7 linked regions of the Homo sapiens genome follow. The protein of the gene in region 2 purifies or fractionates together with the protein of the main gene of each other region. This does not show direct contact. Each region holds a gene or a part of one and is shown on either strand. Other genes may lie near its edges. The genes, in order: ILKAP, LTN1, CLSPN, IVNS1ABP, NOP14, TAF4 and PFKFB3.

Region 1 (4,531 bases), on a different chromosome or scaffold from region 2:
GCAGGAGTTTCCACTGGCCATATCTGAAATCAAGTGAGCAGCAGAAAACCCCATGACTGTGACTACAACACAATGAATAGTCAGTTGGCACACAGTGATTCACAAAGGAAGGATGGAGGGAAAGAAGCAGAGGAGTGAAAGGAAAACACTGATTTCCACAACTATAGGTGACTATCTTCCTTTCAAATGGATAAAGGACAGAATGAAACATTGACCCTGCTTTTTTAGAAGAATCTATGATGTTCTCTTATTGATGATAAGAAGTTTCTTTACAGAATGCCCGCTAATACATGTGAAAAGAATCACAGAATATGGAAATCATCTTTGACATCCCTGATGAAATAATGATTTAGGGATGCTAAGACCATTAGGTGAAAGGCTGACAGGAAACAGAATATTCACAAGGTACCAGTGAACCTCCCCAGATTACCTGCTGATGACGCAAGGCAACAGGAGCATCCGGCTGTCACCACCGGAGCCAAGTGCTGGGATTTGGCAACTTAATTAAGGGTCACATTATGTGCCTACTGAAGTGAAGGACTACTGAGTATACAGCATCCCCCATAAAACATTGCTAAAAACATCTCATCTGAATCTAAAGAAGGTCTTACACCTAACTTCCAGTTTATAGGAAATATACAGAAATAACACCGTAAAAAAATACGCAGGTTCAGAATATTGGTGACTCTGTACAACTGCTGGCCTATAACATGGTTCAAAGCCTGGTAAGAAATGAGTCTCGGCAGGGTGCAGTGGCTCACACCTGTATTCCCTGCACTCTGGGAGGCCAAGGCAGAAGGATCACTTAGCTCAGCCTGGAAAACACAGACAGAGACCCTGTCTCTACCAAAAAATAAAAAAATAGCCAGGCACAGTGGCACATGCCTGTGGTCCCAGCTACTTGGGAGGCTGAGGCTGGAGGATCGCTTCAACCTCAGAGGTCAAGGCTGCGGTGAGCTGTGATCGTGCCACTGCACTCCAGGCAACAGATCAAGATTCTCTCTCTCAAAAAAAAAAAAGAAAGAAAGAAAAAGAAAAAGAAAAAGAAATGCCAAGTCCACGGCAGACATGGATGCTGACTAGACCCTGGTTTGAAACAAAGATACTTTGGGGATAACTCGGGAAATAAAAATATAGACAGGGTATTAGATAACTTAACCTAAGGAAATATTATTGTCTTAGGTGTGAAAATTCTCACTAATTATGTCAAGAACGTCCTTATCTTCAGGAGATGCATGCTTAAGTATTTAGGCTGTTATGTCATCATATCTGCAACTTTTAAACAGCTCAGCCTGACACACATCTATACAGACTAAACATGACACAATGTTCACTGCTAGTAGATTTGGAAATGTTTTACTATTGTCAAGTTTCTTCTGTATGTCTGAAAAATTTAATGATAAAAGCTGAGAGTGGGGCAGCCAGCCCTGGCCTCAGGCAGGAGAACAGACCACGACAGGGCTCTGCTGCTCAGGGGCAGCGACCCACGCTGCTGGTCTCTTAGCCTCAGCCCTTCTCTGAGATGAAGGAGTCACCCAAAACCCACACTGTCAAATGATTTCTCTAAGGCATGTAAACACTTCTCTGAATCAGGTAAGGACTGGGATATAGGAAGCAACTGCAACACAACTGGCCTTACTTTCAGCCATCGGACTGTCAGTATCCAATTATTTTCAAGGAGTTCAGGCAAAAGCAGAATGAATGTAAAACTTACAAGAAAGGGGAGAAGAGGTGATGCTTACGCTCATGTTAGAGTCACATTCTCAGGCATGACTGTCCACAGTAGTTACCAGGACAGTAGTTACGGTGGCAAAAACTGGGCCAACAGCACTGCTTGAGGCCTGAAACCAGGCCTATAATCCCATCACTGCTCATGTAAACTGCAGCGACCGTGAATGAAACTGCTTCTTACTAATCCAAGAGCTTTTTGAACAAACGCTAAGGGTTCCAACTACTCTCCAGAAACCTCCCTGTACCACTGACTAGATTCAGCCTGGAGCAATAAAAAAGGCTTCCCCAAATGAACAACAGAAGAGAAACTACACTTCAAAGGATAGGTAAGTGCAGTCTTATACTAAGAGATGACATCTCTCTTATCTCTGGCAGAAAATAAAATTTTAATAGTCAAACTGTACAACAAACCAGAAAATACTCCTGGTCTAATTCATAATGCAATGTCCTTGAAGTGGAATTCTAAAGAAAAGACTTATGCCCTCCTTTAGCTGCCTTGGATAGAAGCAGATAATAAAACCAGAGCAGACATATGGTTTTCAAAGATTTAAAGAGAGAGTGAAATGAAACTGCAAAAGACAGAGCCAAGTAAGACATGGTCCTCTGTGCCAGTTGTTCCCAAGAAGTCCAAAGACATTACTTAACCCGTCTTAACTACTTCAGATTTTCTCTCTGGAGAATTCACCTAAAACTGTAACTTATTCAATGTGAAAAGTGACAGGTTTTTTTTTTGGTTTTTTTTTTTTTTTGAGATGGAGTCTCGCTCTGTTGCCCAGGCTGGAGTGCAGTGGTGCGATCTTGGCTCACTGCAAGCTCCGCCTCCCAGGTTCACGCCATTCTCCTGCCTCAGCCTCCCGAGTAGCTGGGACTACAGGCGCCCGCCACCACGAAAAGTGACAGTATTTAAGAAACTTCCTAGGCACAGAGAAAACACTGTGAATGGTAAATATGAATTTGTCCTTTTGCAAATGTAGGGAGGCAAGTTTCCTTCCACGTGGACACATGTGAAATCTACAACTGTCATCCACCTATGTCACCAGTGTTAGATCTCAGACAGAGCCTCGTCACACTGAAGACTACGTAACAGGGGAAGTTCTACTCCTTGAAGGTCTCGGGACCCTTCTACAGCTAACAGCCCTCCTTCCCATGAGCTCCTCTCAGTCCCTTGGTTACCTGACGTTTCCTCCAGCCTTCTGTATCCTCATCCGCTCTTCATACTGAGTTGGATTATGCTCTTTGCTGAGGCTTAAGGCTGCATGTTTTTGACTCTCCTCATTATAACGACACAAGATTGCCTGGGAAGATGGAGATTGTAATAGTCATGAAATTCAGTGGGCGCAGCATCTAAAGGTACCAGTTGAAAAAAACAGTTAACAATGGAGTTTGAAGAAAACAGTTAACAATGGAGTTTCACATTCAGCCTCCTGCTGATAAACGTAAGTTCAGAGAATCAAGCAGCAAAGAAGTGTCAAAGACACAACAGTTAGGGAGAGAGTCGCCCCTGGTTTTGATATCAACTCTGGTACAAACTCTGCTGAATAACTACAGACAAGTGCTCACTCTGGCTGTTGTCACATTTGTGACATGAAAGGAAGCACTCAACAAGTATCAAGGTCCCTTTTGGCCTGGAGTCTAGAAGGCCAGAGACATGTCCATGAGCCTATGGAAGGCAAAGAGGAGGGCAAGCGTTGTGCATGCTGGCCGAGTGCCAGGTAGGCCGTCCACACCAGTGCCTCCAGGTGTTCTCGCCCCTGCCAGGTTCATTGTGTCTGTTTTACAGGAAGACACTGAGGCACGAAGAATAAGTAACTCAATAAAGTCACAGAGCAGAGCCAGGATTCAAATTTGGGTCTGACTCCTGTCTTTGTTTTTTTGCCAATTTTCCTCTTGCTATTTCTGAAGTCATGTGGTCTAAACACATGTGGGCTAAGGCCAGTCTACTAAAGGGCCACCAGAATGTAAACTCCACCAGGCAGGGGCTGTCATCTGTTATAGTCTCTGCCATACCCCTAGCACTTAGTATTTGATGAATCATCCCCCCAGAAGCATCGTGGGGAGGGGTCTAAAGATGCTGCTTAAGTGTGGACAGTCACTTGATTCCTGTGACTGCCTAGGGAGCAAGGAGGCCGGGTGAAAAAGCGGCAACGGAACGGAACACATGGTCCTGATGCAGAGGAGGCAGGGTCTGCATCCAGCTTTCCGCAGCAGCACCCTCTAGGCTTTACAGCATCCCCACGACTGTCACCAGGGGGAACAACACCCTGGGCTTTCTCCCTCAGCCAGGGACCGGGCTCGGGTGATGAATGGCACCTCATCTGGTATTTTCTAGCTACAGCTCTCAAGTTACTCTGAAATCACAGTAACTTTGATAGGCAGGGGTTAAAGCTTTTCATTCATTACTGTCTAAGGTCAGAGAAAGGAAATAAAAGAAGATTTAGGCTACTTGCATACTGATTACATTCTGATCCACAGCATCACACACACAAACCACGGGAGGAAAAAAGAAACAAAAAAGACGGGATCTGGGTTTTAAAGCACAAGTCTATCATAGGGCGTAAGTTCCCCAGAGAACAAACAGCCTCTAGCTGAGTTGCTGTTCCCTTACCCAGAAGTTAAACTGCAGCAGAACACTCTGCAGCAACCCCAGAAGAAAGGTTTCAACCAGACACCATCACTTTAATCTTATTCAACAAGTACGTGCTAAAGTCTTTTCCCCATAAAACGTATTGTCATCTAAGTGGGTGGCTCCAGAGCCACATACCCGACTATCTCCGAGGTTGGCAATATAAAGAATGTTGTC
Region 2 (4,531 bases):
GCCTAGTTAAATAAAATCCACTTTTTAAAAATCCCCATAAACATCATCTTACCTAAGAGCAGAATCAAATAGCAAAACTGAAAGGTTTGAATTTTACCAATTTTCCTTTTCCTATCAATTCCCAAGGTTAGCTGCTTTAGATACTTCTTCCCCACGCACCTATAAATACTCCTGACCACTTGTTCCTCCATTTCTCTTTCACACAGCAATGAAGTGAATGTGAATCTGGGAGATAAATTAGGCTCTGCTTTCCTCTCCCCTCTTTCTGTAAGCCTGCTTGCCCACAAAGAACACCATACATTGTGCTCTGCTCCATCACAGAGGAAGGTATGAGGTTTTCAAATATACGGAAGTCTGTTTCCTCCTGGGGTGCAGTGCAAGGGAGTCCACTGTTCCAGTAACTGCTTTATCAGCAATAACAATAACTAACACTTATTGAGCTTTTGCATGTGCCAGGTATTGCTTTGAGCACATTTTAGGCATTAACTAAATCAATCCTCAGAACTCCATGAAGTACAAGTTAATTCCTGCTTTATAGATTATGAAATGAAGGCACAGAAACTTGCCCAAGGTCACACACCTAGTTGCTAGCTGATGGCAGAGTGGGACTAGAACCAATGGTGTGACCCAGAGCCCATGTCTTATAGACAGTATGATATACTATCTATAATGCTGACATTTTGATTTTCATTTGCCTAACTCCTCTCTAATACATGGGTTTGGAACTGGAGACAGTTCAATGCCAACAGCTGTAATGAACTGTAACATAGCCAACTAAAGGGAAAATAAAATGGAAGAAATAACCCAATGTTCAATGATTAGTTATCCATCCATGACAAAGCCAAGAACAAATTTATTTTCTAAAGCCTATGAAGAGCCAAACTAGTTGTCTCAAAATCCATTTCCTAAAGCTCTTAGCGTCCAAACTCATGACACTTCACTCTTGTAACGTTTATAACTTGGCATTTTAAATCAACCAATGATTCTTATGCTACAGATGGGTTAGAAAACTCCATTTGAGCATATGATTAAAGCTACAAACCCTCTCTCTAGAAAAACACGCTTGGTACACCTGAGAAATGAAGAATGGAAGAACCTAAATGAGGTACTACAATCAAGTTATGTGTTGGGGAGTGCTGGGTGAAGAGATTAGATAGGGAAGCAGGGACCAGATCATGCAGAGCCTTGTATGTCAAGACAAGAAATTTGAACTTAAAAGTGTAATGGAGAGCCACAGGAAGGATGGCTAATTGAAAGGAGGAAGGAAAGCAGGGGGAGAGGGTCAGATGGAAATGTTTAAGTAGGGTTATACACAGGGTGTTGTGGAAACACAGGAGTACTAAATAAGGGAATAAATGCAAGCATAGATTTTTTAAAAAATTATCAATTCCCTCCTCACTTCTACTTCATCTACTTTTATTTCTCAATATAATTCTAACAACTTTGTTGTCTGGTTTTTCTAGTCCATATATTGGGAATAGAAAATGAAGGGGGAAGAAATGAGACACTACTAGAAACAGACACACTGAAAGCCACAAACAGGTATGGCTGGTAACTTTTTATGAGAAAGTTATGGCAAAAGTGTTAGCCCAGTGTGGAGAAACTTTATCTGAAAATGGGAGTATAAATTTGTTTGGCCTTTTGAAGGGCCATTTATCATTATAAAAAATTTTAATGTTCTTATTCTTTGGCCCAACATATGCTTACTAGAAGTTCTAGTAAGTATCACTCCCACAAGGGTATGAAGAGATCTACTCAAGAATGTTTACTGAAATAGCATTTGTTATGATAAAAATTGGAAAAAAATCCAAATGTATATTAATCTAAAAAGTTAAATAAACTACAGTACATCCATGTATAGTAATACCAGAGAGCCAATAAAAAGAAAAAGACACTAAGTTAGATCTGTATATATATATATATTGATATGGAAACACGAGAGAAAATAATTTTAGATTTATTTTTAGATATATTACTTGTTTAGATTACATAAAACATCTACTTTTTAAAAATATAATAAAGACTTCAAAATTAAAATGGAAAATTTAAATACTGTAGAAAGATCCAATCCAAAATGTTAATCTTGTTAAAGATCCAAAATGGTTATTTAACTAAACAGAATTTTAAAAAGGCAACCTTCAGTTGGAAATACTCTACTTACTCATTCCCCTACAATCCCAAGTAAAAGAGCTGTCATTATGCTTATAACCCTTAAATACTTAAAAAAAAAAAATAGATTCAGAATGATTCCAGAACTTACACTTGTAATTTCATCCTTACAAAATGCTATGGCTTCAGGTTGCTTGCTTGGAGGAAAAGCCGCTTCAAATGCATCTTTTGCTGCAAACGCAGCTGGTGTGTAAGTATCACACTGAGCCATTAGCCAATATCCCATTAAACTTTTTAAGTAGGGAGCCAACTGTTTCTTTACTTTAAGGATAAGTTTTTCAAAAGCTTGTTGTGTGGCTTCTCGGACGCGACGGTCATGATCCTATTAAAAATATAAATGTGATTTAAAATAGCTCTAGCCCATAAAAACAATCACAGACATTTCCGGATATGCTATAATGACCCATTACCAAGAATTCACCTATGTATTAAGCTAAACTGAAATCATTTTTTTTAAATCAATAATTTGGAGGTTTTTAAATCAGAAACTATGTAAAATAATTTATTAATTTTTCTTTCTCCCCTTCTCCCAATGAGATAGGATTGTATTCAAGACAGATTCAAAGTTGGGCCTTGAGGCCGAGCCTGGTGGCTCGTGCCTATAATCTCAGTACTTTCGGTGGCCGAGGCAGGCGGATTATTGGCGGTCAGGAGTTCAAGACCAGCCTGGCCAACATGGTGAAACCCCGTCTCTACTAAAAATACAAAAAATTAGCGGGGCATGGTGGCACACACCTGTAATCCCAGTTACTCAGGAGGCTAAGGCAGGAGAATCACTTGAACCCAGGAGACAAGGTTGCAGTGAACAGAGATCGCGCCACTGCACTCCAGCCTGGGTGACAGAATGAGACTCCGTCTCAATTAAAAAAAAAAAAAAAAAAGTTGGGTCTTCAATAATTAAGCAACTCACTCTCATTCTTCTGCAGCAAATATACAGGGAATAAAATCACTATCAAAATTTATTAAAACTGGAAAGCACCTGGGTAATTCTCCAGTAACAACCTAATTTCTGAAAACAGACTTCCTAAATGTTCTTCATAACCCAACACAATCCAATCTTTTTTTTTTTTTTTTTTAAAGACATTGTCTTGTTCTATTGTCCAGGCTGGAGTGCAGTGGTGCAATCTTGGCTCACTGCAACCTCCGCCCCACCGGGTTCAAGCGATTTTCCTGCCTCAGCCTCCCAAGTAGCTGGGATTACAGGCATCCATCACCACACCCGGCTAATTTTTGTATTTTTAGTAGAGACAGGGTTTCACCATGTTGGCCAGGCTGGTCTCAAACTCCTGACCTCAAGTGATCTGCCCACCTCAGCCTCCCAAAGTGCTGGGATTACAGGCATGAGCCACCATACCAGGCCCCAATCTCTTTTTTTATTTCCACGCTCTTCTCAAGTGTTAACAATTCAATCTGCATAACAATGCTGACATAACATTTAATAACCCTCACCAAAAATCAACATTATAAATTTGAGAGTCTCCATGACTCCAACCAAAAAATATACAACAGAAATAAACTAGCAAAGTTTTAATACTTACAAGTGAAATTTTGCAAAAAATTCTTGGCCAATATGGAAGAACTCCTTTCACAGTTTCTGTGTCTCTCTCTGTACACATGGTTCCAAATTCCTGCATAGCCTAAAAGTAAGTTATTAACATCATTAGGATTAACAACCATAATAACTGGCTATAGATTATTCTGTTCTGGAAGCTTTGTCTATTTTATGTAATAGGAGAATACACTATTTCTCTTTATGCCATATGAGACTAGTTTGAAGAGCTCTTTCACAGGCTACTACGGTAGAAACTCTTCAGTTGTTTTTTTAAAAATAAAACATCTACAAACAAAAAAACCTCATTTAAAGTTACAAGGTCAAAGTTACATTCCCTAATGGGAAAAACTATACAGCCAAAATTCCAAAGCACTTTAAAAAAGTTCACTGTAACAAACTAATTTACGACCTAGAAAATAAATATCAACTAAGTTTAAGACTCTGTGTCAGAAAAAAGTACAATTATAAAAGAACTTAGCAATAAATTGTTCATTTTTCTTTACATAAAACATGCTAATGACATTTTATTTTAACAAAGGGATTTTCTTGATAATTTTTATGAAAACAAGAAAACTTGCTTTTAATTTTGTGGTGACATCTTTCTTTGAAAGTTTCCGCAGCACCATTCGGAAATCAGAATCTACAAGACTGTCAATTTCTTCAGCTCCTTGAATAGCAGGAACATAGCCTAGGTCACTCTGAGATGTTCCAAAACCAATAAATCCAGGCACTGTTCCCTGTTCTTTGGCAAGGAGTTCTGCAGCTCGGCCACTGTTTGAAGGCTGATAAGAAAATTACGGAGAAAAAAGT
Region 3 (4,531 bases), on a different chromosome or scaffold from region 2:
TCTAGCTATGTGACCTTGGGTAAATGTAATCTTTCTGAGGCTCAATTCCCTCAACTGTAAAATGAAGAGAATAATAGTACCCATTCCTATGATAATATGTTAATGCCTGTAAAGCACAGTTATTAGCACACAAGACATATTAAGTGATCAACTTTTAAATACAGATGCTCCACATCTTACAATGGGACTATATCCTGATCAATCCATCATAAGTTGAAAATGCACTTTCATATTATCCAGATATAACTCCATCGTAAATCGAGAAGCATACTAAGTGCGTATCACATTCATGTCATCGTAAAGTTGAAAAATCATTAAGTCAAACCATCATAAGTGGAGACTATTACAAAAAAATTTAAATATTATCAAATGTATTATGTTTATTATTATTAGAAGTGACTCTGTTCTGCTTTTCTTTGCTTCCATATTCTGTGAGTATATTCATTGTTGCATTTTCTAATCCTCAAAATTGCTTTCTAGGAGGTTGAGGAAATACCTGGAGGATGAGGCAGAGGTGTCAGGAAGTGATGTGGGAAGCGAAGATGAGTATGATGGGGAAGAAATTGATGAATATGAAGAGGACGTAATTGATGAAGTACTTCCTTCTGATGAGGAACTGCAGAGTCAAATCAAGAAAATACACATGTCAGTATCCCAATAAGCCCTTCTGAGTAATAGGGTACATCTTAAGACAAGCCCTGTAACCAGCCAGAATGGTCCTTGTTTTGAACACCTTATTTCTCCTGTTGCAGGAAAACTATGTTGGATGATGATAAGCGACAGCTACGTTTATACCAAGAGAGGTACCTTGCTGATGGGGATCTGCACAGCGATGGTCCTGGGCGAATGAGGAAGTTTCGATGGAAAAACATAGGTATCTTGGTTGTTGTCTTTAAAAGCAATCAGTTACGGGCTGAGCATGGTGGCTCACGCCTGTAATCCCAACACTTTGGGAGGCAGAGGCAGGTGGATCACAAGGTCAGGAGTTCAGGACCAGCCTGAACAACATGGTGAAACCCCGTCCCTACTAAAAGTTCAAAAATTAGCAGGCTGTGATGGCACGCGCCTGTAATCCCAGCTACTCAGGAGGCTGAGGCAGGAGAATTGCGTGAACCCGGGAGACGGAGGTTGCAGTGAGCAGAGATCATGCCATTGCACTCCAGCCTGGGCGACAGAGCGAGACTCCATCTCAAAAAAAAAAAAAAAAAAGCAAACAGTTACAATGCATATTTGTCGAGTTTCAGATGGCAAATGGCAAGCAAAACTATAACAGGCTATGTGAAGACCTAGTTGTAACTGTTTTCTGTTAATGGATGGGAAAAGTTTACATCATTATATAGTAAATGATAAGGGTTTATTTTTTGTCTGTCCAAGCACCCTCTCCTGTGAGGACTGCCGAATGCTGATTACCTTCACTCTTTGTTTAGATGATGCTTCCCAGATGGACTTGTTCCACAGAGACTCTGATGATGATCAGACTGAAGAACAGCTTGATGAGTCAGAAGCCAGGTGGAGGAAGGAGCGAATTGAACGAGAGCAGTGGCTTCGGGACATGGTAGGAGTTCACCTACTCTGACCCTAGTTTATGAGACTGTCCCTTAGCTTGTCATGATAGTTTCAAAATCTTAGCTTGTCATGATAGTTTCAAAATCTTAGGCAACATATTGCTATCTCTTTTAATCCTTGAGCTATCTTTTGTGTTTTGAGAAGGCTATACCATAGACAGTTCTCTTCATGTTTGTCTAAGATTAATTTTTTTTTGTCTAAAGCAGCAAAGGCTGCAAAAAGGAAAACAAATACCCCAGGAACTCTAGTTTCACAATCCAGGCCATGCTAACTATTTAGGAAGGTTATAGACTTTTAATGCTGTATATATATATATATATATATATATATTTTTTTTTTTTTTCAGGCACAGCAGGGGAAAATTACAGCTGAAGAAGAAGAAGAAATTGGGGAGGACAGTCAGTTTATGATACTGGCCAAGAAAGTTACAGCCAAAGCACTGCAGAAGAATGGTGAGCTCTTGTTTCTCCTTAGGGTCTAGCCCCCTGGATTGTTAGTGGTAGAGCTTTGGAGGTGACTCTAACCTTCAGGAGCTGTTGCAGCTTAATCATAAGCTTGTGTCTAATACTGTCTTAAAGAGGCTTCACAGAGGTGGTGGGAGACAGTGTACTTAGATCTTAGACTATTGGGCAGTAGAGACTGTATTCATGAGTATATGTGGCTGGTTTTACTTTATGTTCTAAGGCTCAGAGTAGTTAATTCTGGCTTTCTCTAGTTGCCCAGGATTGTATACCTAAGTGTTAGAGGTAGGATTTGAATCCAGGAATATTTAACTCCAGAAATGAAGCTCTTCACTATTCCCTACACTGACCACTTCTGTTTTTCTTAAATGATTACTGTTCAACTTAGTTGTGTCTCTTCTTGGAGCCAATTATTATAGTTTGAAAGTCACCATTATATAGAACAGAGTTCCCATGGCTTTAGCATATTGATTTAGTTACAAGATTTCTTAGCTTGTTTAGATTTAAAAGTAATTCTAATCAGCTTTTCCCAGAATAGGCCTCTCTGTCTTTTCTTTCCAGCCAGTCGCCCTATGGTTATTCAGGAATCAAAGTCTTTGCTCAGAAATCCTTTTGAAGCCATCAGACCAGGAAGTGCTCAACAGGTTGGTTGGGAACCTTGTTAATCTGACATCATAGTCTACAGGTTATAAAGGCCCAGGTCCAGCTTAGAGAATAGTCTCTGTCATTAGAGGAAGGAGGTGGCTGCAGGGAAAAAGTTAATGTCAAAGGAGTCTGCTATTTCTTTTCTATTTGAATAGGGTAGGCATATGTACCCTCAATATCTAGGGGGAAGCAGGGAGGGAAGGACTTTTCATTCTTTAGTTGGCACTTGGGATTTGATACCAGATGACTCTTCTTTCCTCAGGTGAAGACAGGCTCACTGCTAAACCAGCCCAAAGCTGTGCTTCAGAAACTGGCTGCTCTCTCTGACCATAACCCCAGTGCTCCTCGAAATTCAAGAAACTTTGTCTTTCATACACTTTCTCCTGTCAAGGCTGAGGCGGCAAAGGAATCGTCTAAGTCTCAGGTATGGAATTTGAGAACTAATATGGTGGCTTCCCAAACCAGAATTTATTCATTTATTTAAATTTAAAAACAAAAATTCTGGCTTAACCTCTATGCTGCAATGTTGAAATCTTGCACTCCCCGATAAGGTACAAGAGAATTGCTACCCCAGTCGGTAATCAACTTTTAAACTTGCCGAGAAAGTTTATCTTTCTTTCTTTTTTTCTGTTGTTAATCATCCACAATTTATGAGTTGCTTGAGAGCTAATTGAAGGTAAATACTTGTATGAAGGTCTTTAGCTGGCCCTGACTCCCTCTCTGCTCTCTAGGTAAAGAAAAGGGGTCCATCTTTCATGACTTCTCCTTCACCTAAGCACCTCAAAACAGATGATAGCACTTCAGGATTGACGCGAAGCATCTTCAAATATTTGGAGAGCTAACACCATCAAAGGTGCCAAAATCTACATTGAGACTGCTTTGAGAAGTTTCTAGCACTGAAAGTTGGAATTGACACTCCAGCCAATGATCCTTCCTTCTTTCATAATCAATGCAATAAGATTGCAGACAGAAATTCCAGTGATTTCTACTGCACAGCTCTGGACATCTCTTTTCCTAGTATTATTCCCTGAATTGGCCACTGATTTCAATTCTGCAGTATTTACAACATCAACAACTCATGGAATACTTGGGTGAGGTTTCCTTTTTTTTTTTTTTTTTAAGATGGGAGTCTCACTCTGTTGCCCAGCTTGGAGTGCAGTGGCGTGATCTCGGCTCACCACAATCTCTGCCTCCCAGGTTCAAGCGATTCTCCTCCTTCAGCCTCCCGAGTAGCTGGGATTACAGGCATGTGCCAATACGCCCAGCTAATTTTTGTATTTTTAGTAGAGACGGGGTTTCACCATGTTGGCCAGGCTGGTCTTGAACTCCTGACCTCAAATGATCCATCCACCTCGGCCCCACAAAGTGCTGGTCACATGCATGAGTCACTGCACCTGGCCTTGGGTTAGGTTTCACTTCCTCCATTAGACATTTGACATTTTATTGTAGCAGCTTTCTGGGTTAATATCTCTTTGTGATTGATAGAAGTGGTTGGAAGAGGAAGAGTAGGGAAAAGTGTGACATTACAGATTAAACAGTGAAAATCAGTACCATAATGACTCCTTTACACCCATGAGATACGTACCATGATGACCAGGGCTCGGTGAAAGAAAGATTTCTTTTTTTTTTTTTGAGATAGTCTCACTTTGTTGCCCAGTCTGGAGTGCAGTGGCGCAATCTCGGCTCACGGCAACCTCTGCCTCCCGGGTTCAAGTGATTCTCCTGTCTCAGCCTCCCAAGTAGCTGGGACTACAGGTGCATGCCACCACACCTGGCTAATTTTTGTATTTTTAGTGGAGACAGGGAGTCACCATGTTGGCCAGGCTGGTCTCGATCTCCTGACCTCAAGTGATCCAGCT
Region 4 (3,209 bases), on a different chromosome or scaffold from region 2:
CATTCATTTGACTCAAGGTTATAGACTTCCACCGTATTCAGAAATTCATTGCCATCGAATCCTCCCACTGCATAAATGGTGTTCCCTACAGTTGCAATCCCAGCATTGCTCCTTGGTGAAGTCATATTTCCCATCATCTTCCATTCATTTCTAGTTGGATCATACATTTCCACACAACTGATGGCATGAGAACCATCAAAGCCACCACATACAAACAGTTTTCCTAAAAGAGAAATGAGATGGGGTAAATCCAGAGATTAAAGTGTAATAAGGTAAAACTCCCCTAAATCTGTCTTTTGCTTAAAAATCAGTGGTTTTAAAAATAGAAATGCCTGTTCATTTTGTCAAAAAGAATTTATTAAATGCCTAATATGACAAATACTCTCTAAGAGCTGGGAATCAAATCAATAAAAAAACCATTCCCACGTGGAACTTAGGCAACTTAAAAGGGGGAGGGAGAGGAAGCAGTAGCAGCATCTAAATAAGTACAATTTTCACCAACTCTGTGGTAGTTACTATTATTATTTCAGAGAAGAAGAAAAGCAGGAAGAAGCTGGACAATTATCCTACAGATGCAGCTACTAAGTAGCAAACCAGAATAGTTCTGTGCACTGGACTTTATATCAGCCCAATGTACAGAATTAAGACTCAGAAGAGATTATAGGAAAGCAGAAAAATATCTTAGGGCTTTCCAACTGTATAAAATGATTTTGGGGCCAGATGCGGTGGCTCATGCCTATAATCCCAATACTATGGGAGCCTGAGGTGGGAGGACTGCATGAGCCCAGGGGTTCGAGACCAGCCTGGGCAACACAGTGAGACCATGTCTCAATTAAAAAAATAAAATGATTGTGGTACAGAAATTTCTTCTGGAAACAGAGTTATGATTATTTTCAAATAGATAAAATGTTAGCAATAAATACTCCGTAGCTTAGAAAAAATTTTATTACTGATTCTCAAATTCATTATTTTTTCATTTGACCATCACTTAACCAGCTTGCATTCTATGTATCTGTAAAGCACGCTGACAATGCTCTAGGCCAACAGGCTGTGTCTACACTTAAGCCTTCACCAGTTGAGCCATAAGCCTGCTAAGGTTCAGCCTGGTACCAAAAACAATGCTAACTTTTAAATTATGATTATATAATTAGACATTAAAAGTCAATAAAATGGAGGTGGAAAGAAAGCTATGTCTACATTTAAAAAGTTTAATACTTTGGAAACTTGTTAAAATAGTCTAAAGGTTGTATTTCCAATTAGGTATGGAGTAGACAGTTGGAAAAGACTAGGGATTTGCCTTTGTTTTGCAGATCAGATTCTTTAAATTCTGGCTGTAAAGAAGGGGAAACTCAAAATTCAAGATGATGCATTAAGGATATGTTTTATAGAAGAAAATGACTTGGAAATTCACTCAGTGCACCCATCAAAAGACTGGTGAATTAAGTTATATATCAAGTATTATAAGTCTTTGATTAGAAAATATATTTCTAAAGGACAAATCACCCTAATCTCCATTGCATCAAAAGAGATGACTGCTTCTGAATTCTTAACTGTACAACTATAGTCATTGGCCTTTTCTCTCAGAGTTTTAGAACAAAGTCTTGCCACTATCTACTCTTCACCTCTCCAAATCCCAACACTCACCATTAAGAACAGCCACTCCAGCTCCTCGCCTAGCCACATTCATGGGTGCAATTAAAGTCCAGGTATTATTTTCAGGATTGTATCGTTCTACTGTGTTCAGACAATTCCAAGATTCTGCACCTCCGATTATGTACAAATAACCACCAAGCTCACAGACTGCAGACTGGTGTCTCCCTACAAGAAAAGTCAAGTCAAGATTATTGCTACATCTCCCAGACTCTAAGTGTATACTACACATACTGTTGATTTGAAGGTCTTTAAAAAAAAAAAGGAAAAAAAATCAACTTACGAATGTTAAGAGGGGCACAGCTTGTCCACAACTTTGTTACAGGATCAAATACATCACAATTTTTCAGTCCTTTTTGACCATATGGATCAGAGCCACCAACGATGTATAACTTTCCATTCAGAGCACACACTCCTATGTAAGTATAAAATAAAGTTACATATTGATAATTTAATTATCATATTTAAATACTGGATATCTCAGGAGAAAACTATTATTACCTGCATTACAACGGTTAGTTCTCAATTCTGGAACAGGAATCCAGTCATCTATGTTTGAATCATACATCTCTCCACAACTCAGGTCATCTGAGTGGCCATTTGATCCACCTACCACATAGAGCTGGCCCTATGCCAAAAGTGAGAGATGAGAATTTCTAACATCCTGAAGTTACGAGGAAAAAGCTAAATAGGGGTTGCTCCTGCAACATAATGCGCTTACCATGAGTACAGCCATTTGAAATCGGGCTCTTGGTGTTCTCATGGGAGCAAGAAAGGACCAGTGATCTGTATGTGGATTATAGCATTCGACTGTTCGAAGACATTCCTCTCTGTTATAGCCACCTGGTAAAAAATAAAACCATAAAGATTTATGTTTAAAATATTAAACTGGACCACGGTTTCCAGTCCTGTAAGTTTAAGAAATCTGCACAATGAGAAAAAGTATTAAAACTTTTTAAGGATGCCTTAGTTGATCTTTTAACTAAGTGCTTGTAATAGCTGAAAAATCGCATTATCAGTACAAATAAACTGCTTAGTCTTGGCTTGAATATTAGAAAAATTTAGCCATGACATAATTTTTTTAAAAATTAGATACAGACATTGAACTGAAGGTTAGCCATATTCAATAGTATTGTTATTTCCCTATCTTATTGGATTGCCGTGAAAGATGGCATATTAAACCCTCTCTTTGAAAGTTTGCATGTCACAAAAATGCCCATCTACATGCTTAGCCAGTTGAATGCTTCTGTTCTTACCTGCAGCTATGAGTTTGCCATTCATCTCTGCTGTTCCCAGACCAGATCGTGCGTACTGCATAGGAGACATGGGCTTTTCGATTAGCTCATCTTGTTGCATCTCAAAGCTTAAACTCTTACTTAGTTTTGGAGTACTTGTTGGTGAGCTCTGTGGGCTGTTTCTCCCATGAAGAAAAATGACACAGAATATACCATCCAGCACAGCCAGGCACAAGTAAGTGTTATCTGTAAGCACAAGAGTTCCATGTTTAAGATGTAATTATTACTTTTGGTTTGTGTATATGATCCTGAATTGGACTCCAG
Region 5 (4,531 bases), on a different chromosome or scaffold from region 2:
ACTCGAGGCTACAACCAGAAAGCCACTGTTAAGGAAGCAAGAGTCTGTCCCCACCTCTCAGCCAGAGCCTGCTTGGGAGTGTGGCTTCACTCCGTAGTCATCTGCTCAACTGCAGAACTGGCAGACGCCCCCCGTCAGCTCCCACTGAGCCCACAGCCCTGGCCTCCCAGGGAGATGCTGCCAGCACCCACACTTTGACCAGCCGGGGTGTGAAAAGCTTCAGTGGGACAGGCTTGCTCTTCTCACAGGTCAGCGGCCGGCAGAGCTGCTTCTGGCTTTCCATTTCGGTCAGTGTGCTCTGACACAGCTCCTGAAAAACACGAAATCCCCGACTCTGCGATGACTCACCTGCTGCGTGCCCTGAGCTCCACGCACGGGTTCTGTGGTGTCAAGGCAGCGTGAGGACAGTGCTGCGAGCTCCCTGCAGCAGGATGGTGCCCTTGCTGTGCGCCTACCGGTGGGCGGGGGGGTAAGCCAAGGCTGTGGCTGCTCAAGTCCTGGCACAGCCGGAACGAAGTAAAGCCACTGTCTTCTTGAAGAGGGAGGGCCGTGGGCTGGCCCCTGAGAGCACTCTCTGAAAGGAGGGGACTTGGGGAGTTGGAGGTCACCATAGCCTGTGCTCCTCACAGCCAGAAACGTCAACAGAACCCCTCTTTCCCAGACAAACTTGGCACGAAAGGCCGTGAGCCACTTGCTTCGTGAGAAGGCTCACAGGAGAACCCCTTTCTGCCGCGGGGGGCCGTGTGCATGCTAGAGCCCAGTGTGCAAACTGACGCTGGGTGCTAGGCGGGGCAGGGTTTCCACCAGTCTTGGCAGTTTGACCTTATTTTCAAGCCAACAGAACCAGATGGTTAAGACCCATTTTCACCAAGACCTTGGCTTCCAGAAGAGTTGGCTGGTGGCTTCTGAGGAATCTCCCGAAAGGTAGTTCACTGAGGTTGGTCCTACCCGCTTTCTCCTGCACAGGTGTGTCCTGGAACCCTGGCTGCACCCACAGATACAGCCACTCCTGGGCCCATGTGGATGTAACCTTCGAGTGCCGGAATGCCTCGTCTCCATGGAGACCAAACTCAAGGGCCTGACTGGCCCAGTCTACCGAGACCATGAGACCTGCTGTGCCCCTCGGCCAGGCCAACCCAAATTCTTTTAAATAAAAGGCACAAGCCACAGCCACACCAGCAGGAAGTGGATACAGGATAAGGGGCAGGGCTCACATCTCATCCTCATCAGCCTTTGACCAGGCGACGGAGTCTGTGATAGCTAGCTTATCTGCTCTATGCTCCAGGGACCTGGCCGGAACGAGCCGAGTTGCTGTCCTCATGGAACTCTCATCCTAGTGGGGCAGAGACAAGGACGGTGTAACGTGCCCGGGGGTCAGCACCACAGACAAAACGCAGGGAGCACGGCACAGTGTGGGCCAGGGAAGGCCTGGCTTCCCAAGGGTGTGGGCGCGAGCAGCATGGCTGTGGGGAGTTCTAGGTGCAGAGAACTACTCCAGAGACGAAGCCAGGCCTGCGAGGAGGCCGGAGCGCATGAGGGGAAGGCACGAGGCAAGGCTGCCAGGGCTGTGCTGGTGGTGCGGGACGGTCCTGTGGGGGTAGCTGCGGAGATGGCACTGATGCCTTCGGCTCCAGCAGCATCCTGGGCTGGTGCGGGCCAATAAGGGGCAGGGTTGGGGCAGGATGAAAGGCACAAGCCACAGCCATGTCAAGCAGGAAGTGGATGCAGGGTACAGCCTGTCAGGGTCAGGGTGAAAGGCAGGGAGGCGGGTAGGCCATAGGTGAATTTGGAGCAGCCTGTAGAGGACAGGATGTGCCATCAAAGACTTGTTCTTGGGTCCAGCTGAGACTGTCCCTTGGGGCTTCCTGTCACCTTGTGCAGGATAGTGAGACCATCCTTGGAAAACCCATCGGGACTGCAGAGCGCGGCTCAGAGCTGACTGTCCAGGCCTGGCAGGGGCTGACCCCTGGGCGCTGGTGCACCCTCCGTGCGGCCTCTTGGAGGAAGCACACAAGGCGACAGTTCCCAGCTGCCGCCTGAGATGCAGCATCTGCTTTACTCCAGCCCAGCACTGCTCACCGTCACTGCCCACTCTTATGATTTTACTTCCCTTCATATTTGTGATTTTGCAAAGATGGTGTTGACTTACAGCTGCAGCATCAAATGACTGACTGCCACCAGCTTGGCCCCAGCTCAGGGACATGTCTGAGCCCAGGCAGAGCACCCTAGTGGCCGGGAAGCCTCACCTGGAGCTCCTGCGGGTGGCTGCAGTCCGCCAGGTGATCCGTGAGGAGGGCTTGGAGAGGCCCCATGATGGCGTGGAAGGATGGCAGGGACCCGTACATGAGCACGCAGCGCTTCAGCAGGGCCAGGCCCACAGCCAGGCAGGACAGTCTGTGAGGGCAGGAGGCAAGAGGAGGTCCAACTTGTTCTGTTTGTCACTGACAAAACCAATAACGTGGCAAAAATGAACTTCCCCACTTCCACTAGGCTGAAAACTCCAGTGTGGCCACCTTGGCCGGCCAGGGTTGGGCCCATGCAACCACGGGCAAGGCAGGCTCAGGGTCAGGCCTAACGCAGGAGGGGAGGCTGTGGGAACCGCAGCGCCAGCTGGGATGGGGCGGCTCCATTTTTGGTTCCAAATTATGATTTGTGAAATCAAGCAAATGTATTTTGAAAATGAAAAGAAAAAGGGACAGCAAGCCAACATGCCTCAGAAAGGCTTTCGGCCTCCATCAAACCAAACGGCCGGGCGGCAAGTTCACTAAGAACAGCACATCAGAAAGCACGAGTGGCTTCTCCTGCCTCTGGGGACGCTGTAGGGCACAGGCCCCAAAGCGGGGTCCCCTCACATACCGGATGTGATTGGCCTCTGTCGAAGTTGGGGCCCTCAGTCTACTCGCCCAGCGGAGGGAGAGGCTGCTCTGCTGCCACGTGGCCACATCCTCTCTAGCAGACACCACGAGCAGTTCCGAGTTCTTCCCAAGCGCTCTGAAAGGGTGCACCAGAGTGGAACCTGAATTCCAAGTGCGACAGGACAGAGATGGCCTGAACATTACTGGGCTCCCAGCAGGCTCTGCGGCACCGAGCCTGTGGAAGTTCACCCTCTAACAGACGCACACCGATTTTTATGTTTCTGGGTTGTGCCAGACACTGAGGGTTTCAGCGTGGGCAGGGACACCTCAGGGGAGGGGAAAAGCTTTGGCAGGGGGCGCGGTGAGAGCCAAGTGCCTGATCCTGCCTGAGAGGCCTGCTGGCCACAGACTTCCTGGGGCCTACTAGGCACACATGGGGCTGATGAGGCGCTCAGGCCACATCCGGGAACAGACTGAAGTCCCTGCCCCTGTCGGGGAGACAGGCAGTGCACAGCACCCAGAGGAGCAAATGGACCAGACAGAACACGAGAAAGGAAAGTGGAGGGGCAGGAGGGAGACAGGAGAGTCAGTCGGGGGTGACGGTGGAGGGCGGGAGAGGCCTGAGGGGCAGACGTCAGCAAAGGCCTGTAGGACGCAGGAGTCAATTCACTCGCCACGGAGAAGGGCAATCCAGGCCGAGGGTGTGGCTACACGGGGAGGGGTGGAGAGTGGGTACAGTGGGGCAGAGGTGCCGGGCCAAGCGAGAGGGGAAGGCGTGGGTCAGGCCCCGCCCCACACTTCCCCAAAGCCGAGATGCCCACCCCTTCCTTGACTCCACCTGTGCCCAGCCTGTTCCGTCACAGCCCTTCACACGTGGGACTGCAGCTATCTACAGGTGGCTCTCCCGGAGGCAGGGAGCATGTGGGCGGCCGCGCCCCTCTGGCGCCCAGCACCGAGCCTGACAGACAGGAGCCTTGGGAGGCAGGTGGTGGCAGAATGGGAGCACTGAACCGGAAGAGTGGGCCAGACCCCTCTTGGAAGGGACTCTGCTGGTGGTGTGAATGATGCCACAGCACCTGCTCCTCAGGTCAGTCCCCTGGACATGCAGGCGCTTAGCACTGCACGGTGAGCTGGAAATAGAGGACAGGGGTCTGAGCCTTGAGGTCCAACCTCTGGTCAGGCTGGGAGAGGCGTCCACAGACATGGAAGAGCTCAGGAAGAGGCTGTGCAGCTCCTCACCCCCCAGAGGGAAGCAGCAAGTGCTGAGGAAGCATCCAGGAGCAGGGCTGGCATCAGGGGAAGGGGGAGGAGCACAGGGGCTGGGGTGAGGGCCCAGGAGGGCAGCCAGTGTGCAGACTGCTCCTCATCCCAACACTGCTCTTGCCGCCCTCGCTCCTGAATTCAGAGCGTTAAGAGAAGCGACACAGCAGCGCGGCCTGTGTGAGCTGCACGAGAACTTTCACACTGCCTTGTCGTCACGTGAGAAAAAGTAAAAAGTTAAGATTGATTTTAACAATAGACCTTATCTAACCCCAAATACCAAAATATTATGATTTTAACACATAATACAAAAAATTAAGATATTTTAAGTATTTCTGACACTAAGTCTTCGCCACTTGGGCATATGTCACAGGTAGGGTACGTCTCAGTTCAGACTCTGGCCCCTGGCAACCACG
Region 6 (4,531 bases), on a different chromosome or scaffold from region 2:
GACAATAGATTCACGCTGCCTGCGGGCAGTCCTGCAAGACGATCGATTCACGCTGCCTGCGGGCGGTCCTGCAAGACGATCGATTCATGCTGCCTGCGGGCAGTCCTGCAATACGATCGATTCACACTGCCTGCGGGCAGTCCTGCAAGACAATCAATTCACACTGTGCAGTCCTGTGATATAATCAATTCACACTGTGTGCAGGCAGCCCTGCAATACAATCAACTCACACTGCCTGGGGGCAGCCCTGCAATAAAATCAATTCACACTGCCTGGAGGCAGCCCTGCAATATAACCAATTCACACTACTTGGGGGCAGCCCTGTGATACAATCAATTCACACTGTGTACAGGCAGCCCTACAATATCAATTCACACTATCAGAGGGCAGCCCTACAATCTACACGGGGGACCCCTGCATCTACTCTTTCCTTGGCCTGGATACAGGTCCCAGCTGCATGTGGCTGACCCCTTTCTCATCCCTCAGCCTCCTGGGAAAGCCTTCCCTGACTACCCTGCCCAGCAGTCCCCTCTCACCCAAGGGTGCTAATCACAATCAGACATTCCTGCTGATCTGTTTGCCTGTTAACTGCCTGGCCCCCACAACGGACACACCATGAAAGCAGGGGCTGTCAGCCTGGGACCCCCCACAGCTGAACCCTGGTACCCTCATCAGCCTTCCCCCGTGGCCCAGTACACACCCTCGGAATGTGCTCATGCAGGCCAGGCGCAGTGGCTCACACCTGTAATCCCAGCACTCTGGGAGGCAGAGGCAGGCGGAGCACTTGAGGTCAGGAGTTCGAGACCAACCTGGCCAACAAGGTGAAACCCCGTCACTACTAAAAATACAACAATTAGCTGGGTGTGGTGGTACATGCCTGTATTCCCAGCTGCTCGGGAGGCTGAGGCATGAGAATCACCTGATCCCGGGAGGCGGAGGTTGCAGTAAGCTGAGATTGCGCCACTGCACTCCAGCCTGGGTGATGGAGTGAGACTCTGTCTCGAAAAAAAAGAAAAAAACAAGAACGCGCTTATACAAATAGGCACAGTTGGCGAGAATAAATAGCCAACATCCACATGAACGAGGTCTAATTTCACTCAAAGAAATGCAACTTAAAACTAGACACGATTTTCTTCCTTTAGAATGGTATCCATTCCCAAAAGTCGTATTCTGGCAATGGTTTTAAAAGTGTAATCTGGTGGAAGGTGATATGTATCAAAGCCTTGAAAATGCTCAACCCACCAGACACACACACAGTTAGACATGAAGGCATTCACCTACAGGGGGCCACTTGTCGCCATCAGCACAGCACCCTGGCACAGGGGCCGTTACCAAATGCTGGAGCCTGAGACCACCGAGGGCCAAGGGAAAGTGCACCAGACACAGGACAAGGCAAAGCACAGACTTGGGTCACAGGAGAACTGTAATTACAGAAAAACACAGAAGCAGATATGCAGCAGACACAGGCTGAAGTGAGACACCCCGAAATTTTAGCAGTCTGGGCCAGGTGACGTTACAAGTGACTGTATTTTCTTCTTTACAGTTTACTTCCCAAACTTCCTATAATGAAAAAAAAACTAATTTTATCATCAAAAAAATCATGTTGAAGTAACTAATAATTTTTTACACTTACAGTTACATAAAAAAGCCAATCGAGCCTGCTTCCCGTGTCACCCTTGTTCCTGTCATGATGCTTCTGACACTGACATTCGTAACCTTCTGCAAAGCTCCAAAGCAAGGCAGGCCTGTGCGTTCTGGGCATGCTCTGAGCACCGTGCGTGGCTCCTATGAACACCACGGAGACCACGCTCCTCCGCAGAAGACACAGAACTTCCTTTAAAAACTTTCACAGGTCATTGTCCCACACACTTTACTGCAAAGTCAGAAAATGAAAGGCTGTGTCCCCCGACCCCATGGAACAAGGTGCCCACCTTGCCACCGGCAGCACCTCTGCCCACAGTGTCTGCAGCCCCCAGTGGACCAGCTGACCCACAAAGCCTCTGCCCCAGGTGTGCTTGGGCCACACCCAGCGCCCAGAGAAGGGTTCAGCTCCCTGGCTCCTAGTGTCCTGCCTTGTCCACGCACTGTCCACTCAGACCTCTGACCCCAACCCCGAAACAATTCCCTTGGGAGCCACAGACCTTCTTACTGCAGGGCCCTCATTCTAAAACCTAATGTCAAATTTGATAGACAGAAAAAACTGTTTCTGGGGTTTCCTGACTATTCGGAAATGGTCCCTCCAAGATCCATGTACCCCAACACCACCCTACCTGGCTACGCTCCTCTCACAACTTTGAGATCAAGATGCCACGTGTGCCTTCCTCACATCGGCGCTTTCCAGTGATGCCCAGTGGGGGACACAAAGGGCCCAGCAAGACCTCAGGAAGGACGGACACAGGCCTACACACCAGGCCACAGACAATGGGGCTCGGGGGGCCAACCTCAGCAAGACCTCAGGAAGGACGGACACAGGCCTACACACCAGGCCACAGACAATGGGGCTCGGGGGGCCAACCTCAGCAAGACCTCAGGAAGGACGGACACAGGCCTACACACCAGGCCACAGACAATGGGGCTCGGGGGGCCAACCTCAGCAAGACCTCAGGAAGGACGGACACAGGTCTACACACCAGGCCACAGACAATGGGGCTCGGGGGCCAACCTCAGCAAGACCTCAGGAAGGACGGACACAGGTCTACACACCAGGCCACAGACAATGGGGCTCGGGGGGCCAACCTCAGCAAGACCTCAGGAAGGACGGACACAGGCCTACACACCAGGCCACAGACAATGGGGCTCGGGGGCCAACCTCAGCAAGACCTCAGGAAGGACGGACACAGGTCTACACACCAGGCCACAGACAATGGGGCTCGGGGGCCAACCTCAGCAAGACCTCAGGAAGGACGGACACAGGTCTACACACCAGGCCACAGACAATGGGGCTCGGGGGGCCAACCTCAGCAAGACCTCAGGAAGGACGGACACAGGCCTACACACCAGGCCACAGACAATGGGGCTCGGGGGCCAACCTCAGCAAGACCTCAGGAAGGACGGACACAGGTCTACACACCAGGCCACAGACAATGGGGCTCGGGGGGCCAACCTCAGCAAGACCTCAGGAAGGACGGACACAGGTCTACACACCAGGCCACAGACAATGGGGCTCGGGGGGCCAACCTCAGCAAGACCTCAGGAAGGACGGACACAGGTCTACACACCAGGCCACAGACAATGGGGCTCGGGGGCCAACCTCAGCAAGACCTCAGGAAGGACGGACACAGGTCTACACACCAGGCCACAGACAATGGGGCTCGGGGGCCAACCTCAGCAAGACCTCAGGAAGGACGGACACAGGTCTACACACCAGGCCACAGACAATGGGGCTCGGGGGGCCAACCTCAGCAAGACCTCAGGAAGGACGGACACAGGCCTACACACCAGGCCACAGACAATGGGGCTCGGGGGGCCAACCTCAGCAAGACCTCAGGAAGGACGGACACAGGCCTACACACCAGGCCACAGACAATGGGGCTCGGGGGCCAACCTCAGCAAGACCTCAGGAAGGACGGACACAGGTCTACACACCAGGCCACAGACAATGGGGCTCGGGGGCCAACCTCAGCAAGACCTCAGGAAGGACGGACACAGGTCTACACACCAGGCCACAGACAATGGGGCTCGGGGGCCAACCTCAGCAAGACCTCAGGAAGGACGGACACAGGTCTACACACCAGGCCACAGACAATGGGGCTCGGGGGGCCAACCTCTCCAGTCCCCAAACACAGTCCCCAACAGACAACTTCTCCTGTCCCCACATGCGGCTCCCAACAAACAATTTCTCCTGCCCTCACACGCGGTTCCCAACGACAACTTCTGCTCCACAACATGACACCCACGGTGGGAGAAGCTGGGGGCACTTCACTACATCATCCTGCACACTGCAGCATGGCCTGCTCCAGGCAGAAGGCAGGCCTGGAGAAGAGCCTGGGACCACCGCGGACTGACCAACAGCGGACACCAGGTACTTTCTCAAATGGGAGAGGGGCCTCATGGTGGACAACATGTATCTCTTTGTTTTTCGAAAGCTGTACATCTTTGGTGCAAATGTTCATTTGAGATATGTAAAAATCAAAAGTTTTCACTCAAAACTTTCATGGTCCAACCATGGAAATATTAAGCACCCCATTTTCGAACATAACTTGACAGCACTTATTCTACTTCATTATTCCACGCAAGAATTGGAAAGAACAGCTGTGTACGTGTTTGCAGCTGACACCACAATGCCATAGCAACCGCAGGCCCACCTGGAAGCAGAAGCGTCCAGGAAGCCCAGGTGCACAGCACTCGGCACAGAAGGGCCTGCAGCCAAAAGCCCCCTTTATTTAACTGCTTTATTGCTATCAAAGGCCTGATTAAGTAAACGCCCCCATCACGCTGCCTGAGCCGGGCACCACAGGTGAACACCCTAAACAGCAACTGTTTCCTGGATGATCGAGGGCTTGGAGGTTCCTACTGAGCACCATGAAGAAGA
Region 7 (4,531 bases), on a different chromosome or scaffold from region 2:
ACGTCCACCCCCTACCCACATATTCTGATGAGACTCAACATCCAGGGAGAGAGAGAAAACTGCGCGAGCCTGGAGCTGCACGGGAATGCGGACAGAGACATCCTCTCCAGCAGACGCCAGCCAAAGTGGGTGCAACGGGCGGGGAGGGCTTGAATGGTTCAGCATGAAAATCCCCCACTTGATTGTACCATACCTGAAGCACAGCCTCAGTTCCTACTCAATTCCAACCAGGAAAAAAACATGCATTCTTTAAAAGCTCTTCCCAAAAAACAAACAGCAACGGCTCTTCTCTCCACGCCCAGTTTCAGGTGTCTAAATCTCCCACCCTCACCCAGGACCTGTCCCTTGAGCTGGGAGGAGGATCTCAGGGCTCACAGCAGAAGGCAGGAAAGAAAAGTGACCTTTGGCACAAGCTTTGAGACATCCTGAAAAGGGTCATTTGGACAAACTCTGCTGCCGAGTTTCCAAATGGTTTCATCTGGGCACGAGACCCCCCGTCCCACCTACCCCAGGGTTTGAGGCAATGAGGAGAAACCAACAGGCTGAGACGACAGGTCCCATGCTTTCCATCACCACAAAAGTGTCATAGACGCCATGAAGGGAAGGCCAGGACAAAGTCCACTCTTCCGACCTTCCCAAGGCACCGGCAGAGTGCCAGGCACAAGGCAGATGCTCCAAGACAGTGTGCAGGCAGCTCTTGAAGAAGTGGCTGCGAGTGAGGCCTTGCTTGGGCCACTGTCCCCACCTGGGAAGAGCAGGGACGGTAATGCAAGTGCTGGGGAAGGATGCCAGGTGTTCCGCTCCCCACCTTCAGAGGTTCCAAGCCCCCCAGGGCAAGACACCCCAACATCTACGTTCCTGAAGAGAAGGTGGGACTCTCAGGTCACACTTCTGCCATCAAAAAAGTGCAAAAGCCAGCAGCTCCAGGAAAGTGTTTCTCAGTTCCCCCCAAGTCCAGGTGGGAGGAGAGAGGGGCCCTGGAGCTCCCTGGGAGCAGGAGGCCCCAGTTCTCATATTTCGGCAAAATACTTCCCTCTCCCCGTGCAGCCAGCCTGCCCTTGCACATCTTTGGAGGCAGGCCACAGGCCTGGAAGGTGTGTGGACCTGCAGGAGAGCCAGGGTGCGGACCACCCAGCCAACTTGCGTCTCAGCTCAGGGACTTCCTGCAGAAGAGGCCTCAACCCAACACCTGTCCAAGTTCGTTCCCATGAGGCGTCTTCCCAGGTCAAGATGCACCAAACAGTCACGTGGAGGTTTTACACATTCCTTAACTTTCAGCAACTAGGAGCCTGCCTCCTTTAATTTTAGGATTCTGCCACCAGTGTGGTCTTCCCAGCTCCAAACGTGCCGGGAGATCACAGAAACGAAACAAAACAGCACAGTGTCCCCAGCGGCCTCCTGTCAGGACCAGCACTCATCACCCTCCCAAGGCTTTGTGAAGGTCTCCGAGGCTGGACATTCCTAGGAAACCCAGAGAGTGGAGGTGGGGGCCCCACGGCTAAAGGCAGGGCGCCAGGGACCCACGTGGCTTTCTGGTGTCCAGCGGCCGAGGGGACACAGACGGTGCCAAGCATGGTTCTCTTCGGCCAAGGCTCCCCCGCTGCTCCACCCCACCCTCTCCGGAAGAAGTCCTCAGGATACGTTTTGCCTCGGGCGGAGGGCAGGACACAAGCTAAGCTGCAGAAATGGAAATGGAATGGAACCGACACGTCTGCCTCAGTGTTTCCTGGAGGAGTCAGCGCTGCTCCGGGAGCCTTTCATGTTCTGTTTTCAGGAGAAAAGAGAGGTGGGGAGGGAGTTAGGATTTGTAGCTGGCTGAATTCTAAAGCAGAAGACGCGAGCCATGCAACGGAGAATTCTTCCCTCCCTCCATCCCAGACAAAGAACATGATCCAAGAAAGGTGCTGCCAACCTCACAGGCGGGAGAGAGCCCAGGTGGGCCTCAGAACATGACGCAAGATAACCCCAGAGTCTCAGAGAAGGGGCTGGGCACCAGGCCTGGAGCCCGCCTGGTGGGGGCCGTGTGGCTCCTGGAGGACCGTGAGCTGCGCGGCGCTGGGCACCAGTAACTACAGGAGCCTCATGCTCACGACCCCATAGAAATCCCACAAACCACAGCCAGGCAGAGGATGAGCCCGGGGCCTCCAAGGACACACAGGGCCCCTCCTCTCGACTCAGCTCAAAACAGAGCCACACTCCCAGCTCCTGCATCCAGATTCTGGGAACAGAGCTTGACAGGCAGAACACAGGTGATACATGGAATGGCTGGACGTGGTGGGGAGGCCCAGGTGGGGAGCCAGGCAGAGGGGTGTTGTTAAAGCCCTGCCCCACTTCTGATCACAGTGGCCCTCGCAGGGAGTTCCACCCCTAAGGCACTGGCCAGTACCAAACCCCCCCGCCACCCACCCCCCGCAAAAAAACATGCTCCAAAATCAGCGAGGAACACAACTGACTGCAGCCACTGCACAGCGGGCCTCCTTCCGTGACCTGCTTCACCTACGCCTCAAAAAACAAGAAAACACACAATGTTTAAAACTATTCTCTCCAGTCCTGAGTGTCTCCACCTGGACTGCTCTAAAGAGGGTGGGAGAGAGCCCAGGCACACAGGGCCACCGTGGCCCATGCCCACCCCACACAGAACTGGGGGTCCAAGGCTGGAGCCATCCACAGGGAGGAAAGTCACGGGGCTGGGCAGCATCAGAGCTATCGCCCAGGCGTGGGCCAGACTCAGGAACCCAGGTGATGGGTGCCCACCGGGAGGTGATGGGTGCCCGCCGAGAGGTGATGGGTGCCCGCCAGGAGGTGATGGGTGCCCACCGGGAGGTGATGAGTGCCCACCAGGAGGTGATAGGTGCCTGCCAGGGGATGACGGCTGCCTGCGGGGGTTGATGGGTGCCCGCCGAAGGATGATGGAAGTGATGGGTGCCCACTGGGAGGGGGCAATTCTCTTCAGAGAGCCCTGGGTCCTCATATCTAGGGAGAGCCCCAGCCGGGCTGTGGGATCACAGAGCAGGGCTGACATTTCCCTCCGCATCTGCTGGCTCCAACCTGTCCTCAACACCACCAGCCCACAGCTTCCGGCACCCACAGGTGATGGCGATGCAACAATAACAGTGGAGAGCCTGCAAGACCGGGTGATGTCCACGTCCTTCACCCAGGGGCCCCAGCTCAGGACACGTGGGGGGTGAGAGACAGACTAGAAAGGACCTCACGACAATGGTGTTGCACTTAACAACCTCGGCATGGAGACAGATGAGCCCCGCATTGCACGATGGCCAGTCTGCACACAGACCCAGATGCCGTGACGCGGTGCGGGACAGAGGGACATGCACCCAGGCATTTACCTTCCACAGTTAGTAAGGAGAAAACTTTGAGAAAATGTGACAGACAGTTCGTCTTTCAAGCAGAGTGGGGGAGAGGAAGAAACAGGTTGGAAAAGGAAAAAAAAAAAGAAAATCTTTAGTAGGATTTTCTAGTGTGCATTTGAAATTTTAAAAATGAAGGTTGCATCACAAATGCCAGGTGATCTCTCGATCCCAAGCAGCCGGCACAGCCCCCAGGAAGGCACCCCAGAGCACCAGGTCCGGACAGTTGTTCGTCCCCATCTTACTGGGAAACCAAGATCACAGGGGTGAAGACTCTAGGCTGGGCGTGGTGGCTCACATCTGTAATCCCAGCACTTTGGGAGGCCAAGGCGGGTGGATCACCTGAGGTCAGGAGTTTGAGACGAGCCTGGCCAACATGGTGAAACCCCATCTCTACTAAAAATACAAACATTAGCCGGGCATGGTGGCGGGCGCCTGTAATCCCAGCTACTCGGGAGGTTGAGGCAGGAGAATCGCTTGAACCCGGGAGAAGGAGGTTGCAGTGAGCCAAGATCGCGCCACTGCACTCCAGCCTGGGCAACAAGAGCAGAATTCCATCTCAAAAAAAAAAAAAGACTTCAGGCCATGGCCTTGAGACCCCAGGGATTTCCCCTCCCCAAGTCTGGGTGTTCCTGCTGCCCCAGAGAAGAAATCCCTCAGGTTACAGGAGGGTATCCAAAGGCTGACCCAATGCCAGCAAGCCCAGAAGTCTCCACAGGCCCAGGGCACCAAGTTCCTCCCTGATAACAACAGCAGCCGTCATCCCCCACGCACTTCCTAGGGGCCAGATATTGTGCTAAGTGCTGTATCTATAGTCTCATTATGACAACTTTATGAAGTTATTATCTCCATATTACAGATGAGGAAGCTGAGGTCCTAGAATTGCTTTAACTTGCCCAGAGTGCCAAGGATAGAGGCCAGGAGGAGTAGAACCAAGATGCAGGCCTGGCTTGGTCTGACTTTCATCATAAATTCTGGTCACAGAGCCCAGGTGGACTCCTAGAATCAGATGTGGCTACAATCCTAGATGTGGGGTCACGCACCCAGGATGGACGGGACAATGGGACTCCAGAGTGAAATTCCAACCTGAGTCAGGTGTGATGGGTCCATCGGATGTATTTTTGCTGAACAGGAGGGATTCTAGCAAACGCACTATTATGTTCATC

What was found.
Region 1: the proteins of LTN1 (region 2) and ILKAP purify together in Homo sapiens (affinity purification with mass spectrometry; one large-scale study listed by BioGRID and IntAct). This does not show direct contact.
Region 3: the proteins of LTN1 (region 2) and CLSPN purify together in Homo sapiens (affinity purification with mass spectrometry; one large-scale study listed by BioGRID and IntAct). This does not show direct contact.
Region 4: the proteins of LTN1 (region 2) and IVNS1ABP purify together in Homo sapiens (affinity purification with mass spectrometry, with the first as the bait; one large-scale study listed by BioGRID). This does not show direct contact.
Region 5: the proteins of LTN1 (region 2) and NOP14 purify together in Homo sapiens (affinity purification with mass spectrometry, with the first as the bait; one large-scale study listed by BioGRID). This does not show direct contact.
Region 6: the proteins of LTN1 (region 2) and TAF4 purify together in Homo sapiens (affinity purification with mass spectrometry, with the first as the bait; one large-scale study listed by BioGRID). This does not show direct contact.
Region 7: the proteins of LTN1 (region 2) and PFKFB3 purify together in Homo sapiens (affinity purification with mass spectrometry, with the first as the bait; one large-scale study listed by BioGRID). This does not show direct contact.

The regions. Positions count from the first base shown.
Region 1 is NC_000002.12:238,179,161-238,183,691, forward strand, and holds part of ILKAP (integrin-linked kinase-associated serine/threonine phosphatase 2C), read right to left. Parts: coding exon 4,493-4,531; intron 3,027-4,492; coding exon 2,905-3,026; intron 1-2,904. UniProt on the Homo sapiens protein: Protein phosphatase that may play a role in regulation of cell cycle progression via dephosphorylation of its substrates whose appropriate phosphorylation states might be crucial for cell proliferation.
Region 2 is NC_000021.9:28,982,432-28,986,962, forward strand, and holds part of LTN1 (E3 ubiquitin-protein ligase listerin), read right to left. Parts: intron 4,504-4,531; coding exon 4,300-4,503; intron 3,807-4,299; coding exon 3,708-3,806; intron 2,492-3,707; coding exon 2,261-2,491; intron 1-2,260.
Region 3 is NC_000001.11:35,735,479-35,740,009, reverse strand, and holds part of CLSPN (claspin), read left to right. Parts: intron 1-480; coding exon 481-645; intron 646-752; coding exon 753-874; intron 875-1,427; coding exon 1,428-1,555; intron 1,556-1,912; coding exon 1,913-2,018; intron 2,019-2,588; coding exon 2,589-2,671; intron 2,672-2,934; coding exon 2,935-3,096; intron 3,097-3,403; coding exon 3,404-3,514; 3' UTR 3,515-4,531.
Region 4 is NC_000001.11:185,298,066-185,301,274, forward strand, and holds part of IVNS1ABP (influenza virus NS1A-binding protein), read right to left. Parts: intron 3,132-3,209; coding exon 2,907-3,131; intron 2,494-2,906; coding exon 2,372-2,493; intron 2,279-2,371; coding exon 2,152-2,278; intron 2,066-2,151; coding exon 1,934-2,065; intron 1,819-1,933; coding exon 1,645-1,818; intron 224-1,644; coding exon 1-223. UniProt on the Homo sapiens protein: Involved in many cell functions, including pre-mRNA splicing, the aryl hydrocarbon receptor (AHR) pathway, F-actin organization and protein ubiquitination.
Region 5 is NC_000004.12:2,939,336-2,943,866, forward strand, and holds part of NOP14 (nucleolar protein 14), read right to left. Parts: intron 3,017-4,531; coding exon 2,857-3,016; intron 2,395-2,856; coding exon 2,247-2,394; intron 311-2,246; coding exon 192-310; intron 9-191; coding exon 1-8. UniProt on the Homo sapiens protein: Involved in nucleolar processing of pre-18S ribosomal RNA. Has a role in the nuclear export of 40S pre-ribosomal subunit to the cytoplasm.
Region 6 is NC_000020.11:62,055,235-62,059,765, forward strand, and holds part of TAF4 (transcription initiation factor TFIID subunit 4), read right to left. Parts: intron 1-4,531. UniProt on the Homo sapiens protein: The TFIID basal transcription factor complex plays a major role in the initiation of RNA polymerase II (Pol II)-dependent transcription.
Region 7 is NC_000010.11:6,230,128-6,234,658, reverse strand, and holds part of PFKFB3 (6-phosphofructo-2-kinase/fructose-2,6-bisphosphatase 3), read right to left. Parts: intron 1,765-4,531; coding exon 1,717-1,764; 3' UTR 1-1,716. UniProt on the Homo sapiens protein: Catalyzes both the synthesis and degradation of fructose 2,6-bisphosphate.